Regions from separate parts of the Homo sapiens genome. Here region 2 is linked to region 1. Evidence: fine-mapped expression QTL. Tissue or cell type: whole blood. Region 1 holds a variant in brackets; the other region holds the start of a gene. All regions are shown on one strand. Distances are from middle to middle. Region 1 overlaps ME1 (malic enzyme 1). Region 2 holds the start of PGM3 (phosphoglucomutase 3).

Region 1 (2,815 bases):
GCTGAACGTGCCAGGTATTAACAGGCTGAGTTAGAGGAGGGGGCCATACGCTTCATCTCAGATCAGTAAGAGAAAGACGACAGGACTAAAGTTAAAAATCTAGGTCTCTACAGGGTACTGTCGCTTGAGCGAACGTGTAGTTTTTTGAATTCAAAAAGGCTAAATTATACCTCAAAAATTGGTAGTAAAAAAAACAATCAGGTCAAAATAAGGGGTAGGGGAGAAGGGAGAGGAGAAAATGCTTACCTATGAGGGCAGTTGGTTTTATTTCTTGAACAATGGCTTCTAGGTTCTTCATTTCTTCATGTTCATGGGCAAACTTCTCTTTCTCTTGTGTTAAGGAAGCACGTCCCTAAGTAAAGCCAGTAAGAAAAAATTAAGAATCTGCCAAACATGTGAGGGTCAATAAATTTCGGTACATATATTACAAATATTTATGCTTAACATTTTTATGTATGATGTGTTACAGCTATTCTTAAAATCTCTTCTTCAATTGTCAGAATGTTATTTCATTCATTCGTTTAACAAATATTTATATGTCAATGTTCTAGGCAATGGAGATGTAACAGTGAACAAAACAAAGTCCTTCATTTAATTGATATTAAAAATCCTAATTTTACAGACATGTGAGAACTAGCATTAACAAATGGCCATGCAAAATATAATTTAAATAATTATATTGTTCGTCACACATTGTGTTTTATAGCAGGTCTCAGAATTTGGAGTTGGCTTCAGCTTTAGCCCTACCAATTTATGCTACTGACTAAGAAAAGAATTTGAAGTCATATTTATGTCATTGTTAGATTTTCTCAGTAAGTATGCATTTTATATGTTTTTGTTTTTAATGTTCTGATTATGAATGCGCCATGTGTTATCTAGTAAACATCTAATTATAATATTCTAGCTGCAAATTTTAAAGATTTGACTACATAATGGATCACTGCCTAATTTTATATGGTACTTGATGACTTACAAGTTGTTTTCACATATTTCATTTGATCCCCTCAACAATTCTGAGAAGCAGGACAAGTATAAGTATAGTCATTTTACATATGCGGAAACATGTTCAGAGGTTTTAAGGGACTTGCTCAAGGCAAGAGATTGTACTAGAACTCAAAGCCTTTTCAATATAGCACAGAATCACCCCGGGCAAAAACTTAACAAATAGTATGTCATAGTCTTTGCAAATTGTTAATAATGAAGATAGTACAATTTTCTTTCTTTAAAGGGTATTATCATTTTATTTCTGTTGCTTTTGTTTGTTTGAAATGAGGTCTCATTTTGTCATGCAAGTTGGAGTGCTGTGGATCAGAGGTCACTGCAGCCTTGAACTCCTGGGGTCAAGGGATCCTCCCACCTAAGCCTCTCTAGTAGCTGGAACTACAGGCATGCACCACCATGCTTGGCTAATTTATCATTTTTTTTTAGAGATGGGGGTCTCGCTATATTGCCCAGGGTTGTCTCGAACTTCTGGCCTCAGGAGTGATCTTTTCGCTTCAGCCTCCTGAGTCACTAGGATTATAGGCGTGAGCCACCATGCCAGGCTCTGTTTTTTTTTGTT[G/T]TTGTTGTTGTTGTTGTTGTTTTTAATTTTGTTTTGTTTGTCTTTTTTTTTTGAGACAGAGTTTTTGCTCATGTTGCCCAGGCTGGAGTGCAGTGGCGCGATCTCGGCTCACCGCAACCTCCGCCTCCCGGGTTAAAGCTATTCTCCTGCCTCAGCCTTCCAAGTAGCTGGGATTACAGGCATGTGCCCGGCTAATTTTATATTTTTAGTAGAGACAGGCTCTGTTTTTAAAAGCAATATACTGAATTATTAAAAAATTTGAAACATATGAACCTCTTTGTGCTTGTCTCCTCATCTGTAAATAAGGATAATAAGGACTTCTACCTCATCAGGTTGTTTGTGGGGTAAATGAAATGTAATGCATGTAAAACACTCAGGACTGTACCTGGTTTATAGTAAGAGCTCTATGCTAGTTGTTGTTGCAATTAAAATTTTTGTGAAGAAGAAAAAAATCATAATTCCAGCACTTAAAGTTTTGGTATATTTTCTCCTATTAATAATCTGCTGTAGGCCAGGCGCAGTGGCTCATGCCTGTAATCCCAGCACTTTGGGAGGCTGAGGCGGGCGGATCACGAGGTCAGGAGATCGAGACCATCCTGGTTAACACGGTGAAACCCCGTCTCTACTAAAAATATACAAAAAATTAGCTGGGCGTGGTGGCAGGAGCCTGTAGTCCCAGCTACTCAGGAGGCTGAGGCAGGAGAATGGCATAAACCCAGGAGGCAGAGCTTGCAGTAAGCCAAGATCACACCACTGCACTCCAGCCTGGGCGACAGCGAGACTCTGTCTCAAAAAAATAAAAAATAAAAAAAAGAAATGATTAGCCAGTTTTGAGAATCAGTGTACTAAATGATCTATCATATCCCTACCACATGCGTTTTTAAGAGGTTATGTGCTATGTTTTCAAAAAAGTATACAATAATGAGTCTAAAGAAGAAAAGCTATAGAATAAGATAAATTGGAAGTCACAGCTTTTTTGGCTGTCAAGCTGAGATATAATGAAAAATATTTAAATTGCCTAGAATGGGAAACAAATAATAAAAAAGACAGATGAATAATGTATGAAAAGAAAAAGATATATACTTAATCATAAACATCTTTATTAATCATAGTATACCCACTGGCAGCTCCTAGACACTGAAGCCAGAACTTAGCCAGAAGACATTCCATCTAGTAAGAAGCATAAATTACCCATGGCAACACTTTCAAAGGCTTGATTCCTGGTATGACTTACAAGTGCTGAAAGAATGCTGA
Region 2 (2,815 bases), 37 kb before region 1:
TGGCGAAACCGCCTCTCTATTAAAAATACAAAAAAATTAGTCGGGCGTGTTAGCTGGCGCCTGTAATCCCAGCTACTCGGGAGGCAGAGGTTGCAGTGAGCCGAGATCGCGCCACTGCACTCCAGCCTGGGTGACAAAGGGAGACTCGGTCTCAAAAAAAAAAAAAAAAAAAAAAAACAGGCCAGGTGAGGTGGCTCAGGCCTGTAATCCCGGCATTTTGGGAGGCCAAGGCGGGCGGATCACGAGGTCAGGAATTCAAGACCAGCCTGACCAACATGGTGAGACCCTTGTCTCTACTAAAAATACAAAAAGTAGCCTGGCGTGGTGGTGCGCGCCTGTAGTCCCAGCTACTCAGGAGGCTGACGCAGGAGAATCGCTTGAACCCGCGGGTGGAGGTCGCAGTGAGCCGAGATCGCGCCACTGCACTCCAGGCTGGGCGACAGGGTGAGACTCCGTCTCAAAACAAACAACAACAAAAAATCGGCCCTTAGCCCACTAATACTGTTTTCTCTGGGATACTCCCATTAAGTGGAACTTGGGGTTTCCAACCTCAGTCAGTAGTTTTCCTTCAGTAGTCCATATACTACATTTCCTGGGTCAATTAATTCCCAATTAGCCCAGAGATGAGGAGCAGTCCGCCAGCTGCTAGCCTCATAATTTTGTTTTCTTTATTGTCCTTCATTGCTTCAATGAACAGAACTTGCAAGAAATGGTGAAAAATACTTGCTTTTGTCCAGTTGGAAAAAGCTGGCATTCAGTAAACTAATTTAGTTCAAGACAGTGATCAGATCTCTTTCCTAAGGATGAATACATATTTGTAAAAACTGAGCAGTCAGTTATGTGTCATGATTATTCATAAGAGTGTAAACCAGTCCTGTTAACTCCAAAAAGCCATTAAAAAAAAAAAGGTCCAGATAATATGAGTTCATCCTTTCATGCGTTTTAGGCCCTACAACTACTTTCAATGCCTCTGCGAATGCCTTTATTGAAAGCATATTTGCCAAATCCAGCGTCCACGCAAAAAGTTAAGAGTATCCCCCTACTCTCCATTCAATCTTCAAATCTCCTTGGTGCCTCTCTCCCGCCTACCCTCGAATCACCGCACAAGGGTGATTCCCGGCACTCCACCCTGAGGTCCCCGCCTAGGTCCACGTACCAGAGCCCCGGCAGGAGACCCGCGGCCCGTCCCGACCAGCCCGCCCGCGGGGCGCAGGGGCCTGTAGGTGTGTCCCGCGCGCTCCGCCGCTCGGTCAGTCGCCCGCCAGACCACTAGCCCCTCCGTCGGGCCGAGAATCTGACCTGTCCCGCTCCCACCGAGCCCTTGCCGACCGGTAGTCTCCCTTCTCAACTCCGAGCCTCGGGGCCCGGCTTACCTCGGTCAGGAAGCCCCCTTCACCTACACGCAGCGGAGAAGCGCCCAAGCAACAACGTCTGCACCCAAACCCAGTCCTCAGAACCGCAGACGTGGCCCTGCGTGGCTTCCGGCTCGTCGCCACGCCCCCTGGCCAATCACGGCAGAGGACTATCCGCCAGCCCCGCCCCCGCCTCGCCGCAGGTCGCGCGCAGCTGGCGCCTGAGGAACTGCGGCTGCGGTTCCGAGCGGGGTCTGGGGCTGTTACCATTGAGTGACCAGAAAGGGTGAGGCCCCCGCGGTGGCCCGGGGGTTGGGGCCGAGGGTCGCGGGCCCTCAGAGCACTGCGGCCGCGGAGGCACAGCCTCCGCCTCCAAATCCGGGCCTCTGGGGGCGGCAGGCCCTGCGTTCCTGGGAAGCCGGGGTTCCTAGTGGTCTTGGCTAGGGGCGGGGGTGGGGAATCAGCCCCGTCGCTGGGCCTCGGACAGGGCGACCTCGCCCACAGTGAGCGCCGCCGGCGGCCCGCATCCCCCTCTCCGACGTCGAGGTCATCTCCCAAACCTTTGAATCTGGGAAGCCTTCTCCGGCTGCCGTCTCCCCGGGTACCCCCTTCCCCCAGCTCACTGTAAACATCTTTTATTTAATGACCTCTGAGACACCCCCTACCCTTATCCTGGGTCCCTCGGGGCAGAGGCCAGTGAATCGTAAACGTCCGGAGCCCTGGAATGCGGCCCAAGCGAAAAGGCCACCGCGGTGTTGGGGGGGGGCGGTCCGCGAGTCCAGGACCGAGGGGTGGCGACTGGCGCTGGGGAACTCGGAGCCCATCCTGCTGGCACTGCGGCCTCTCTCGCCGCAGCGTCTGGCTCCGCCCAAGCCCGAGCCCCGGGTGGGATTGGAAGCCGGGCCCCAGCCTTTCCCAGAATTCAGGCTTGCAGAGCGTCTGCAGGTGTCTGCCTGCCACCTGCAGCGGGACAGTTCCAAACACCTGTTGAAAGTGCAGATTCCCCTATCTAGTGCGGGGTGCGGGAGGCGGGAACCCGGAGCCCGGGTACGCAGAATATGGGTTTTTACGGAGTGTTTTAGAGGATGTTGTGCATACTAGATTTTGGAGTCAGGAAATAAAGAAGAGTGCAAGTGTCTGGTTTGTGCCCCTAGCTCTCGGTGCAAAGCGTTCCTGCAGAATTGCTTCCACGTAAAGGGACCTTCGGGAAATTTCGCTGGATACCGGCTGGCATTGACAAACCCAGCGTCCCTGAGCCTTGTGAGGTTTCCAGGCAGGCTGATTGCGAGGCAACATGTCTGCTTCGGTGAAAGAAAGCCTTCAGCTTCAGCTACTGGAGATGGAAATGCTGTTTTCTATGTTTCCTAACCAAGGAGAAGTAAAACTTGAAGATGTAAATGCCCTGACGAATATAAAGAGGTATTTGGAAGGCACAAGGGAGGCGCTGCCACCAAAAATCGAAT

Evidence for each region. PIP is the estimated chance that this variant, and not a neighbour inherited with it, causes the effect. A credible set is the group of variants that fine-mapping cannot tell apart.
Region 2: it holds the start of PGM3, and the variant in region 1 is the best candidate, but not a certain one, in a credible set for the expression of PGM3 in whole blood (INTERVAL, PIP 0.54).

Annotation. Positions count from the first base shown.
Region 1 is chr6:83,228,580-83,231,394 of GRCh38, forward strand. ME1 (malic enzyme 1) reads right to left here. Exons shown (of 14, transcript NM_002395.6): 10 at 247-352. Among named protein-coding and RNA genes, the nearest start is that of RWDD2A, 37 kb to the left of the region's middle. The variant G/T (reference allele first, on the strand shown) is at 1,562.
Region 2 is chr6:83,191,806-83,194,620 of GRCh38, forward strand. PGM3 (phosphoglucomutase 3) reads right to left here and starts at 1,460. Exons shown (of 13, transcript NM_015599.3): 1 at 1,374-1,460. It overlaps RWDD2A (RWD domain containing 2A), which reads left to right and starts at 1,552. Exons shown (of 3, transcript NM_033411.5): 1 at 1,552-1,638; 2 at 2,507-2,815. The coding sequence starts at 2,647. RefSeq lists silencers at 1,111-1,180, 1,481-1,850 and an enhancer at 1,423-1,922.